Linked DNA regions of Homo sapiens. The protein of the gene in region 1 purifies or fractionates together with the protein of each later gene. This does not show direct contact. Each region holds a gene or a part of one and is shown on either strand. Other genes may lie near its edges. The genes, in order: ACOT6 and SPTB.

Region 1 (2,756 bases):
AAAAAAAAAAAAAACAAAAAACAAAAAAAACCAGCAACAACGAAAAAAAAAACAAGACTGGGCGCAGTGGCTTACGCCTGTAATCCCAACACTTCGGGAGGCCAAGGTGGGCGGATCATCTGAGGTCAGGAGTTTGAGACCAGCCTCACCAACATGGTGAAACCCCATCTCTACTAAAAATACAAAATTAGCCAGGTGTGGTGGCACATGCCTGTAATACCAACTACTCGGGAGGCTGAGGCAGGAGAATCGCTTGAACCCGGGGGGAGACGGAGGTTGCAGTGAGCCGAGATCGCACCATTGCACTGCAGCCTGGGCAACAAGAGTGAAACCTTGTCTCAACAAACAAACAAACAAACAAACAAACAAACAAACAGGCTGAGTGCAGTGGCTCGCACTTAAAATCCCAGCACTTGAAGAGGCCGAGGTGGGAGCATTGCAGTGGGAGGATTGCTTGAGGCCAGGAGTTTGAGACTAGCCCAGGCAGCATAGTGAGACCCTATTTCTATAAAAAGTTAAAAATTAGCCAAGCATAGGGGCCTAGCTACTTGGGAGGGTGGCTTCTTGAGGCTGGAGGGTCACTTGAGCCCAAGGATTCAAGGTTACAGTGATCTACAGGCTACAGTGCAGTGGTGTGATCACAGGTCACCACAAACTGGAACTCTTGGGCTCAGATGATCCTCCCGCCTCTTCCTCCTGAGTAGCTAAGACTATAGGCAAGTGCCATCATGCCCAGCTAGTTTTTTAAACTTTTTTGTAGAGATGGGTCTTGTTATGTTGCCCAGGCTGGTCGTGAATTCCTGGCCTCAAGTGGTCCTCTTATCTTGACCTCCCAAAGCACTGGGATTATAGGCATGAACCACCACACCTGGCCTCATTATGTTATTTCTAACTTGGTTTATTTTTGTTTGTGAAAATAATATTATTATTATTATTATTTTTGAGATAGAGTCTCACTCTGTCACCCAGGCTGGAGTGCAGTGGTGTGACAATAATTTATATCATTAAAAAGTTTTAGGCCGGTTGCGGTGGCTCACACCTGTAATCGCAGCACTTTGGGAGGCCAAGGTGGGCAGATCACCTGAGGTCAGGAGTTCAAGACCAGCCTGGCCAACATGGCAAAACCCAGTCTCTACTAAAAATACAAAAAAAATTAGCCGGGTGTCTGTTGCATGTCTGTAATTCCAGATACTTGGGGGGCTGAGGCAGGAGAATTGCTTGAACCCAGGGGGCAGAGGTTGCAGTGAGCTGAGATTGCACCACTGCACTTCAGCCTGGGCGACAGAGTGAGACTGTCAAAAAAAAATTTTTTTTTTAATTTCAATACCTTTTGGTGTACAGGTGGTTTGGGGTTACACGGATGAACTGTACAGTGATGAACGCTGAGATTTTAGTGCACCTGTCGCCTGAGTAGTATACATTGTACCCAATATGTAGTTTTTTATCCCTCTATATTATCATTATTGTTTGAGAAAATAAGACATTTTGTTCTTTCTCTGCCAATCTCTCTACCCCCAATCTCCTTGGCTTCAAAAACTTGTTTGCTTACTGTCTTTTGAGAAACTAAAGCTCCCTGTGATTTGTGATGTTCTCCAGGCAGGGGGCCCTTTCCTGGGATCATTGATCTGTTTGGGAGCAGCAGGGGCCTTTGTGAATACAGGGCCAGCCTCCTGGCCGGACATGGTTTTGCTGTGCTTGCCCTGGCTTATTTCAGATTTGAAGACCTCCCCGAAGATCTGAATGATGTACATCTGGAGTACTTTGAAGAAGCCGTGGACTTTATGCTGCAGCATCCAAAGGTGCGTTCTGGTGATCACCTGAGTGCAGAAGAGAGGGGATAGAGCTGATGCAGGGCTGAATCCAAAAGCCCTGCCAGAACACTGAGAACTAGAAACATGCCAGGAGATACCAAGTCTCCTTCAAAGGTTACTAGGGTGGAAGCTGGGCATGGTGATGTGCACCTGTAGTCCCAGCTACCTGGGAGGCTGAGGCCGGGGGATTGCTTGACCCCAGGAGTTCAAGACCAGCCTGGGCAACATTTAGTGAGACCCCTGTCTCAAAAAAAGTTTTTGTACTAGGATTATTATTTCCATTTTCTCCCATCTCTCTCTAATCCCTGAAGACTTGACTATTTAGTTGTCTTTGTAATTGTGGACCAAAATTCAAAGAGCACAGGACTAAAAAAAGTTCCAGCTCTGCATCTACCACAGAGTGGCCTTATGATTCTGAATAAGGCAGTTACTCTCTCTGGAGTTCAATTTTCCTCCTTAATAAGATTAATGTAAATGTATATAGAGAAAATGACTATAAAGAGATATTTTTTGAGACAACTGGAGACATTTGAATGAGAATGGTGTATTTGATTATATGAAGTAATCATTAATTTTGTTGGGTATGATAATGGTATTATGGTTTTGTAAAGAAAGTCCTTATCTGATAACAGAAATAATTAATTAATTAAAACATTTTGGCCAGGTGCGGTGGCTCACGTCTGTAATCCCAGTACTTTGGGAGGCCAAGGCGGGCAGATCACCTGAGGTCAGGAGTTTGAGACCAGCCTGGCCAACATGGTGAAACCCCATCTACTAAAGATACAAAAATTAGCTGGGCATGGTGGTGCACACCTGTAATCCCAGCTACTCGGGAGGCTGAGGCAGGAGAATTGCTCGAACTCAGGAGGCAGAGGTTGCAGTGAGTCGAGATTACACCATTGCACTCTAGACTGGGCAACAAGAATGAAACCCCATCTCAAAAAA
Region 2 (3,820 bases), 8.8 Mb from region 1:
GCCACTGCTGAAGCAGCCTCCCCCGCATGGTGGGAAGGCCCTGCCCCGAGCCCTTCCTTCTGGCCGCAGACACTGCAGAATGAGATTCTGGGCCATACGCCGCGGGTTGAGGATGTGCTGCAGAGAGGGCAGCAGCTGGTGGAGGCGGCGGAGATCGACTGCCAGGACCTTGAGGAGCGCCTGGGGCACCTGCAGAGCTCCTGGGACAGGCTGCGGGAGGCAGCGGCCGGGAGGCTGCAGCGACTGAGGGACGCCAACGAGGCACAGCAGTACTACCTGGATGCAGACGAGGCTGAGGCCTGGATTGGCGAGCAGGAGCTCTACGTCATCTCCGATGAGATCCCCAAGGTCTGTTCGGGCAGGGGATACCAGCCAGGGTGCCCAGGCAGAGAGGAAGAGTTGAGGTTGGCTGTCGGTAGGGAGCCTTGTGAGTCCAACTGTGTGAGGAGTGAGGCCAGGGGAGGGGCACAAGGAACCCACAGACTCCCTGCCCTCCCTTGGTGCCTCCTTGAACACACCCCTGCAGGGCACACACTGAAGCCAGGTGCCTCCTGTTTACCCACTTAGGTTTGCTCTAACCCAAGGGTTCTCTACTTTTCTTTACCCTGGATTCTGTACGCTATGAAAGAGATGGGGTGAGAGGTGACAGGTGGGGGTCTCTCAAAGCTGGAATGATATAGGATGTTTTCATGGGGACAGGGGTTAGAGCACAAAAGGAAGGGTATATGTCGGATACGAATCAGGGGAGTCCAGAGAGGAAGGTAGGGCACGGGCATTGCTGGGAAATCAGAAGGGCAGGAAGGAAGCATGTGTGGCTCTCCTGCGGGTGTCCCACAAGCCTACTCCCCTCCTCCCTCGGGCACCTCCAGGAGTGGGGGCACAACTTGCCAAGGGAGGGATCATGGCCAGACTGAGCTCTGGCGCTGACCGTCTGCTGCCTCCTAGGATGAAGAGGGCGCCATTGTGATGCTGAAGCGACATTTGCGGCAGCAGCGTGCGGTGGAGGACTACGGCCGGAACATCAAGCAGCTGGCCAGCCGGGCCCAGGGCCTGCTGTCTGCAGGCCACCCTGAGGGGTGCGTGCGCCCCCTGTGGTGACTCGGTCAGGAGATGGGGATTGAGCCAGGGGCCCACCAGCCAACGTCCCTTCAGATTTAAAAGGAAAATGGAAAGAGTTTTCCCATCAAATAGGGCTGGAGAAAATTGCTGCGGGACTGGTGATGGATCCAATTTCATTTTATGCCTTGGTTTTGTGTGAATCACTTCCAGCTGGGCCATCGAGGCCCTGGTTTTCGAAATGATCAGAGAAGGGGTTAGCAAAACTACCCTCTTGGTGACCTGAGAGCACCAATTTTCCGAAGGGTTACAATATGCTAAGGGACACTGAAGACTACTTTAGCTTTTATTTTTATGGTCCAGAAGGTCTCCAGGACTTCACAGTCCAGACAGAACCATGATGTAGGAGTGCAGGTGGAAACCTGTGCCCACATGGGCTGCGAGGTTTTGTGGATCCTGCATAAATGGAAGCCCACTGGGCCACAGACCACACACTGCCCCCAGCCATGGCCCTGTCCTCAGCTGCCATTAGGGTGCCCACCACTGTGGGTCCTCAGCAGCCACCCCAGAGGTTTCCCTGGGAGCCACATTGTCTGGGCCCCTAGTATGTCTTTTCCCTCCCTGGAGGGCTGAGCAGAGCTGTTGCTGCGGGAGCCCCACTCAGGTAGTGCTGCTCCCCCAGCCTCTCTGGAAGAACAATGGAGGCGTTCCCCATTTGCACTTGTCCCTGTAAGCTTGCCAGAGTGAGGGGCACCATGGGAAGCACCCCTCCAGGACAGAATTCCAGGACACAGTGTGTCATCCCCTGAGGCTAGGGTGTGGCCCCTTCTCTCCCCAGCTCTTCCCCGGCAAAGCCCCTGTCATTTCTCCAGAGCTTCACTCCCTACCTATCCCTGCCAGGGGGCTGTGGTTGGCATATGTTGGCTCCCTGGAGCCACGGCTCTGGGTTCGTGGCTGCCGTCTCTGAGGGCCTTTTTGGTTTTGAATTCCAGGGAACAGATCATCAGACTTCAGGGGCAAGTGGACAAGCACTACGCAGGGCTGAAGGACGTGGCGGAAGAGCGCAAGCGCAAGCTGGAGAACATGTACCACCTGTTCCAGCTCAAGCGGGAGACCGACGACCTGGAGCAGTGGATTTCAGAAAAGGAGCTAGTGGCCTCTTCCCCGGAAATGGGGCAAGACTTTGACCACGTGACTGTGAGTAGCCACAACTCCTGCTGTTTTTGTCTTTCTCTAATGCGGTAGACGCAGCCAGCCGTCACTCAAGACACACAGAGTGCTGCATAGGACGTAACCTCCCCAGTGTGAGGCGGGACCAGCCGATGCAGGCCTGCCCTGGGGAAGGTGTGACAGCGCAGCTCCCGGAGCTGCAGTTGCTGCCTGGGAAAGTCTTTGGCTAAGCTGGTGACACCTGTAACCCCTGTGCCCCCCATAACCACATTTCTGTCTGCCCCATGCCTAGCTTCTGCGGGACAAGTTCCGGGACTTTGCCCGGGAGACCGGGGCGATTGGGCAGGAGCGGGTGGACAATGTGAATGCCTTCATCGAGCGACTCATCGACGCGGGCCACAGCGAGGCGGCCACCATCGCCGAGTGGAAGGACGGGCTGAACGAGATGTGGGCAGACCTCCTGGAGCTCATTGACACGCGCATGCAGCTGCTGGCCGCCTCCTATGACCTGCACCGCTACTTCTACACGGGTGCCGAGATCCTGGGCCTCATCGACGAGAAGCACCGCGAGCTGCCCGAGGACGTGGGGCTGGACGCCAGCACGGCCGAGTCCTTCCACCGGGTGCACACAGCCTTCGAGCGGGAGCTCCACCTGCTGGGTGTCCAGGTACCTTCAGCCCCCTGCCGCCCACCTGCTACCAATTTCCAGGAGCCCTGGGTGTCAGTCCCCACCTGGCTGTCAGCAGGAAAACCTCTAGGATAAGTGCCAGGAGGTTTTGCCTCCTTAGACAGCCAGGAGCTCAGGGCTGGGAGCAGTGGCTTTCAGATGTTCCTTAGCTTCAGAAGTCATTCTTTAAACTGAATCCTCACAAAAGGCCAATGCATACAATACTATACGGTTGCAGTTTCTCCAGTTGTGCAGTACTATTAGTGGACACACGCACAGCACTTTTCTAGCACCAGGTGCTCTTCTGAGCAATGTATGTAGCCGCTGGACCCTCATGGCAGTCCTCTGAGGCAGCTACTAATATTCCCTGCACTTTGTAGATGAGAAAAGGGAGAGGTAGAAGACCCATAAGTTTCCCAGGAACATGTAGGTACGAAGTGGAGCCAGGGCTCAGACCCTGGCAGTCTAGCTATAGACCCCACATACTTAGCCACCGGGCACTTCAGCCTTTCCACATGGGAGCTGGAGAGCCCCCAAGTTCTACTGTTCAGACCCCTGCCCCATCACTGGAGTGCCCTCCGCAGATCCGTAGGGTGCCCCAGAGCTTGGTGTGATAGAAAGGGCAAATGCAAGGGGGCCCCTGTTGCTGAGGGCTCCCCCAGCTTCCAGTGCAGCAGGGAGAGGTAGGCTGGCTGCGCAATCCCAGGCCAGCCCTGCAGGGCTTGGGGACAGAACACCAGGGTTGGCTGGGCCCCTGGTTCATCCAAAAGGGGACCTCTTAGGGAAGTGTCCTCCAGCTGGAGTGGAGGGCCTGGTGTGTGGCTGTTGCATTTGGGGATGCCAGGGCCCCTGAGATAGGTGTAGCCCCACTGAGGTCTTAGGAGTGAGGTTTCACTGTCCCCAGGGCCAGCCTCAATCAGGGGATCT

What was found.
Region 2: the proteins of ACOT6 (region 1) and SPTB purify together in Homo sapiens (affinity purification with mass spectrometry; one large-scale study listed by BioGRID and IntAct). This does not show direct contact.

Annotation. Positions count from the first base shown.
Region 1 is NC_000014.9:73,615,394-73,618,149, forward strand, and holds part of ACOT6 (acyl-coenzyme A thioesterase 6), read left to right. Parts: intron 1-1,450; exon of another isoform or gene 1,451-1,600; coding exon 1,601-1,799; intron 1,800-2,756. UniProt on the Homo sapiens protein: Catalyzes the hydrolysis of acyl-CoAs into free fatty acids and coenzyme A (CoASH), regulating their respective intracellular levels.
Region 2 is NC_000014.9:64,771,653-64,775,472, reverse strand, and holds part of SPTB (spectrin beta chain, erythrocytic), read left to right. Parts: exon of another isoform or gene 1-54; intron 55-69; coding exon 70-348; intron 349-945; coding exon 946-1,076; intron 1,077-2,048; coding exon 2,049-2,253; intron 2,254-2,518; coding exon 2,519-2,893; intron 2,894-3,820.